Homo sapiens: one gene and its partner. Changing the gene in region 2 together with the main gene of any one other region gives a genetic interaction. Each region holds a gene or a part of one and is shown on either strand. Other genes may lie near its edges.

What was found.
Region 1: changes in SLC39A3 (region 2) and PTP4A3 together harm fitness less than expected from each alone (positive genetic interaction), as found in Homo sapiens cells (one study listed by BioGRID).

The regions. Positions count from the first base shown.
Region 1 is NC_000008.11:141,398,521-141,402,328, reverse strand, and holds part of PTP4A3 (protein tyrosine phosphatase type IVA 3), read right to left. Parts: intron 1,759-3,808; exon of another isoform or gene 1-1,758. UniProt on the Homo sapiens protein: Protein tyrosine phosphatase which stimulates progression from G1 into S phase during mitosis. Enhances cell proliferation, cell motility and invasive activity, and promotes cancer metastasis.
Region 2 is NC_000019.10:2,732,019-2,734,823, forward strand, and holds the end of SLC39A3 (zinc transporter ZIP3), read right to left. Parts: exon of another isoform or gene 2,508-2,805; intron 1,468-2,507; coding exon 733-1,467; 3' UTR 506-732; downstream 1-505. UniProt on the Homo sapiens protein: Transporter for the divalent cation Zn(2+). Mediates the influx of Zn(2+) into cells from extracellular space. Controls Zn(2+) accumulation into dentate gyrus granule cells in the hippocampus.

The DNA of each region.
Region 1 (3,808 bases), on a different chromosome or scaffold from region 2:
GGAGCCCTCCCTGAGCAGGGCGCCAGAGGGCTGGAGGAGGTGGTGGAGAGAGGGGTTCTGCAGGGCCACAAGTACCCCGACTGGTCCCATCCATGCCTTCAGCCCCTGCCAGCTGTGCCTGCCCACCTCTCCCTTCACCTGCTCCACCCACACCTTGCAGCCTCAGACCCGTCACCCAGGGCGGCCTCCAATGTTTCTAGAGGCTGCACCCTCTGCTGGCACCCCTCTCCCCAACTCCCTTCTCCTGGACACCCCAGCTGCTGCCCAGGTCTCCTCCTCCAGCCCCGACCCAGGGTGGCTTGTGTGATATCAGGGGAGGTGTGGGATCCCGGGAGCTGGAGGAATGGCCCTGGCATCACGGGGCCCCCCTGGGCTGAAGCTGGAGTGGCCTCGTCCATGCCTTGAGACTGTGAGCTTCATGGGACTGGGCCCTGCTGGGGCCACAGCGGGGGAGGGGTAGGTGACTGTGTGGATGGACAGATGGATGCGCTCGGTAAATGGTTCTGTCCATGCTCCGGCCCACGTGCTCCAGTGCCTTGGAGCCCCGCTCCACCTGCTGTTCTCTGAGCTCCCTGCCCCCGCATGCTATCCTGGGACTCCACAGCACAGACCTCTGAGCCGATGGCTGTCCTCACAGGCCCGGGGCCCCTCGGGACGGCCCTTCCGGTGACTTCCTGCCAGGGAGGCCAGGGGGAGGGGTAAACAAGGCCTCCAGATGGCTTCCTGTGGCTGGGCAGCCGTGGGAACAGCCCGGCCCAGGGAGGCTACCAAAGGAGGGGAGGGTGGGAGCAGGGGCCAGCCAGCAGCATCCGTCAGCAGAGCATCTGCTGAGATGGACCCGCTGCCCTCTCGGAGCCTCCGACATGGCCGGGGGGACGTCACACCCTGTTTACAGAGGGGGACACTGAAGCACAGGCAGGCAAGTTACCCCAGGGCCAGCCCACCAAACCCAGTGCCCTCCCCTCCACACCAGAGACTCCCGTCTCTCTGGCCTCATCTGCAAAGGAGCAGATGAGCTGGCTGGCTAGAGGTCACCTCAACGACAGGACGTGCAGATGTGCAGGTGCCAGCTTGTCTGTCTTCCATCCCAGCACTGCCACTCCCCAACTGTGCTACCTAGCAGAGTGCCAGCCTCAGACACCAGCTTCCCTCCCTGGGAAACAGGACGACCATGGCAGCTGCCACCAGGGGACCCTGAGGTTTAAGGATGTGCCCTGGGTGAGCTCCGGCTGCTGGCCCAGAAGAGGCTCGCGACGGTGCCATTAAGAGTGATGCCGTTCCGTCAGGTCCTGGGTCCCCAGGAGGAGCCTGTCCTCACCCGGCTTGCCCCTTCCTGGTGCCTCGTGCATGACTCCCTCCGTACTGTGATGCCATCTCCTCCCAAAAGCCCACCCTGACTACCTGCTTCCTGCCCCACCACGACCTCTAAGTCTTGGGGACACATGCTCCAGGGAGGGAACTGCCATCTCCTACAAGTCCTACTCACCCATGGGATTTCTCTGGGGTCAGGACCGCCCCTCTCTGCCTACTGCCATCCCCACGGGGCCAGTGTGGACCCGGGCAGCCCCCCAAGAGTTATGGGGAGGCAGGAGCTACACAGCAGCCAGGATAGGGATGAAGGGGCTGGCAGACACACAGCCGGGCACCAACAACCCTCCCATCTGACCCAGGGTTCTGCCAGCGGGCCAAGAAAGACTCACCCCGGTGCCGAGACGCACATCCTGGCTGTCCATGGCCTCACTTAGGAGAGCCCATCATGGGGGTGGGGGGATGGCTGGTTAATAAACAAGCATCTGACCAGACCCAGAGACCAGGGTCCAAGGGTGCCATCGGGAGAGGACCCCAGTCAACACCCAGGGAAATTTCAAGTGACACTGTAAAACAGCACCCGAGGCCGGCACGGTTCTTGTGAAATGAAGCAGAAGCCCAGAGCTACTGCAGCCGTGTATTTCCCAGGCTGTTTGAATTTTTATAATGAACATCACCAAATGTGTGTCTAAAACAATAACCACGTTTGCGCCTGGCACAGTGGTGGGCCGGGCACAGATGTGGGCCGGGCACAGTGGTGGGCAAGGTGCAGAGGCGGGCCAGGCGCAGAGGTGGGCCAGGCGCAGAGGCAGGCCAGGCACAGTGGTGGGCCGGGCGCAGTGGCTCACACTGTAATCCCAGCACTTTGGGAGGCTGGGGCAGGAGGATCACTTGAGTCCAGGAGAAGCAGCCCGGCTAACATGGTGAAATGCCATCTCTACAAAAAATAGCTGGGCATAGTGGCGCATGCCTGTGGTCCCAGCTACTCAGGAGGCTGAGTCAGGAGAATCGCTTGTGCCTGGGAAGCGGAGGTTTGCAGTGAGCTGAGATCGTGCCACTGTATTCCAGCCTGGACAACAGGGTGAGACTCCGTCTCAAAAAAGAGAAAACAATAACTACATGTTTGAAGCGTTGTTCAAATGTCGCCTCTCCCCCATGTGAGCTCCTTGTGGGTCCCGCAGTGCTGCCATTGCACGTCCCCAGCCTGCCCCAAGAACACAACCTGGCAGGTAGGGAAACTGAGGCACCCATGGACAGCCCTCCCCCAGGTCACAGGCCTGGAAGAGAGTAAAGGGCATGCCACCAGGACCCCGTCCATCCATTGCAGTCACCGACTCAGAAGCAAGCAGCCTGGCTCAGGTGGCTGGAGCTCAGCTGCCAGGCCTTTGTCCTGATCCCACCCATCTGCTGTGGGGGCCGGGGTCTCCCCCAGGCTCCCCATTCTCCAGACACAAAAACGGAGGCCCAGAAAGGGCAGGAGCAGGGAGAGTCGGCAGAGCCAGGGCCAGGCCTTGTAGCTCCCCAGGGCCATGCGGAGGGGACAGGGAGGCCACCGAGGGGAGGGGCAGCCGGGAGCCCCGGGCACCCCCAGGGACCCCCTGAGCTCCACACGGCAATTCCCAGCAGATGGGCCTCTGGGCAGCTGGCCAGAGGGAAGCAAAGCCCGGGAGGAAGGGCCTCTGCGGCTGACCCAGGACGGGGAGATTAAAGGAGAAGATGTTTGCCTTGGCAGGGGCCCCAGGACCAGGCGAGCCAGAGGAGGGGGCCAGCGTTCCAGGCATCAGTAGAAGATGCCAGAGTGGGGGTGCCAGGAGTAAGAGGCACCGGCTCTAGGGGCAAGGGCGGAGTGGATGAGCAGGTAAAGCACACCGTGTGCCACAGGAGGGGTGGTGACAGGGACCTGAGGCAGGCGGGCAGAAACCCTGGGTGGGGTGGCGGGGAATCCTCCGAGCCCTCCCGAGCCTCTTCCAGGAAGCCTGAGTCACAGGAGGGACCCAGGGCCAGGAGAGCAGCCGGGAGCACCGGTCCCGTGGGAAGGGGACTGAGATGGGGACAGGGACAGGGCAGGGCCACCCGTCACCTCCTCTAGCTGGGCCAGGCCTGGCTTCGAGGTCTCCGTGGCGGGTGAGGACGAGGCCGTGGGAACAGGCTCCTGCAGCTCCCCAGAGGGACTAGGGGGTGGTAGAGCTAGACAGAGTGGGTCCAGCCCATCCTGCAGAAGGGGAAACTGAGGTCCAAGAGAAAAGCCTCCTGGACAATGACGTCATCAACTGAAGTGTCCCCTGGGCAGCCCAGGCCTGGACACTGGGGAGAACAAGGCAAGAGTCTCCCCAGCCAGGCCCTGAGCACCCTCATCCGGGGGTCTTCAGGTTCCAGAGTCCAGTTCTAGCACATCCACCCTCAGCCATGGACCCGAGACCCTCCAACTCCCAGGGTTAGAGACTTCCTCTTGATGCCCTATTTCCAGGACCCCACCCCAGGGAAATCTGATCCCCGCAGG
Region 2 (2,805 bases):
TGAGGACTGATCTTTAAGCTGCCTCCTGGCCCTGCTCGTGAGTCTCAGGAAACTGTGACACTCACCTGGCCCGGGGGTCCTGGCCCAGGGGTCCCCGCTCCAGGAGCCACCCAGCAAAGGGAAAAGGAGAGGGCACTCCTGAGGGTACATGGCCCACTCACAGGGGGTACAGCCTTGTGTGGCAGGAGGGACGGAGCCCGGCTGTCCCATCGCAGTGACTCCAACCTCTAATAAGCCTCAAGACACTCGGGGCTCGGGCGGCGAGATCCTGGCAACAGAGTAGGGTAGACGTTGGGGCCTCAGGGCCCCCAGCTGGCTCCTGAGGCACAGGCGGCGCGGCCCTCACTCTGGCCACAGCAGCCAAATGCTCCCGTCCTTATTCACAGGCTGGGGGTGTGCGGCAGGGAGAGGAGGGTCCTGACCGATCTCACCGGGACCCAGGTCCTGGCCCTCCCGCCCGTGGGTTGCCACACCCCACGGCCCGAGGTTGACATGGCCACACAGCTTTGGTAAAGACTTTTAAGAGAAAGAAGTATTTTAAAAAGTAGCAGTGCTCTGAGGCTCAGGGTGTAGGATCGGGGGCACAGCCTGGTCCCGGGAGGCCCCTTGTGCACAGGTGGTGGCCCAGGGCCACAGTGCTCGCTCTTGGGGGACGCGCGGCCGGGGGACGCGGCCTGTGTCCGGCCCGGGGCTCCCGGCGGGCTCCGGCGGCAGGGACAATGGCGAGGCCGCTCACCACTTGAGGAAGACCATCCCGGCCAGGACGGTGTAGCCCAGCACCAGGAAGAGGACCTTGAGCAGACGGTCACTCTTCTCCTCCAGCTCCTTGGCCAGGATCTCCAGGAAGGTGATGAAGAGGAAGGTGCCGCCCGCCAGGCCCTGCAGCAGCACGGACGCCACGCTGCCCGGCACGCCCTGGGCGCTCTCAATGCCCAGGCCCAGGCCGATGCCCAGGGGGATCATGGCGCTTACGGTGACCGCCAGCTTGGCCGCGTCCCGCAGGGGCATGGCACTCCGGGCCATGCTGATGCCCAGGGCCACGGCCACCAGTGTCTCGTGGACGGCCACCCCCACGAACAGGCTCACCACTTTCTCCCCCTCCTCCTGCAGGCCCAGGGCCAGGCCCTCAAAGACCGAGTGGGCCGACAGCGCGAAGGCCAGGCTGAGCAGGCGCACGGGGCTGGCGCGCGAGAGGCCCTGCACGCTCAGGCTGGGGCCGTGGCCGTGGGGCTCCACGTACAGCGCGTGGCCCCGCGCGCCCCCCATGAAGGGGCTCTCATACTCCGAGTCGCTGCCCACGTCCGATCCGGCGTTGAAGGTCTCCAGGTCGATGAAGGACGGCTTCTCCTTGCGGAAGGTCAGGATCAGCTGCTCCAGGAAGACGGTCATGAAGAAGCCCAGCAGGAGGATGGTTTCGGCCAGCGGGTAGTCGGTGCTGATGTGGCCGAGGCTCAGGACCTTCTGGAGCTGCAGCCGGGGACACCCGAGAGAGAGAGAGAGACCCACGCTCAGGGGTGGCGGCGACAGGGCTGGCCAGATGTCACCGTTCAAAGCAAAGTCCAGAAATCCCCGATTCACACAGAGGTTAAAACAAGTGGGAGAGGAAGGGCTCGCCTGTGATGAATTAACACCACCACCACCAGCCAAGCGCGGTGGCTCATGCCTGTGACCCCAGCATTTTGGGAGACTGAGGCTGGCGGATTGCTTGAGCCCAGGAGTTCGAGACCAGCCTGGCCAATATGGGGAAACATGTTTCTACTAAAAATACAAAAATTAGCTGGGCATGGTGGCGAGCACCTGTAATCCCAGCTACTCAGGAGGCTGAGGCAGGAGAATGGCTTGAACCCAGGAGGCAGAGGTTGCAGTGAGACGAGATCGTGCCACTGCACTCCAGCCTGGGCGACAGAGGGAGACTCCGGCTCAAAATAAACACATAAAGAGCTGCACTGGCCTTGCGTGTTCTGCCGCGGGGCCTCCTCTCTGCTTCCCTGACCGACATGCCTGGGCCCGACTCTCCTCCTGGTCAGGGCTCTCCTAGCGAGGGGAGACTTTGGTGGGGAGAAACTAGACGTGGGTCAGACGGGAGCCGCAGGGCGTCTGCAAGAGGTACACACTCCTATGGGAGGGACAGCTGCTCACGGGGCGGACACGCAGGCATTAGGCTATGCGCCAGGATGAAATGTCTCATGAAAGGCAGGCTGTAAACGCCCACAACAGCTCCCTGGAGCCTCGTCACGGCAGGGCCAGAGTTCACAGCCACCCTCCAGAGAGACCTCGAGACCAAAGTGGAGGAAAATCACAACACAATCGACACTCAACAATGCCTGCTTCCCTGCTTCCTTCCCAGCGGAGACTTCATTACAACCTGCGCACGTGCACACACACACACACACACGCATATGTGCACACACGCACGCACACACACGCGCACACGCAGGTGCACACACAAGCACGCGCACACAGTGGTTCTCAACCAGGGCGATTCTGCCCGTGTGGACACCTGGCAATGTCTGGAAACATTTTTTATTTTCACAACTCGGGTAGGGGGAAGGTGCTGACATTCGGGGCTGGATTGTTCTCTGGGACGGGGCCGTCCTGGGCACTGCAGGGTGCTGCTGAGCAGTGTCTCTGGCCTCCACCCACTCCAGGCCAGGAGCACCCCCCATCGTGACAACCACAATGTCCCCAGGCATCGCCCAGTGTTCCCTGGGGGCAGTTCACGCTGGGTGAGCCTCTGCTGCAGCAGAAGGCTGTGTTTCCACGGAGAAGCCACTTAACTCCCTCACTGACCACCGGCTGGAGGCC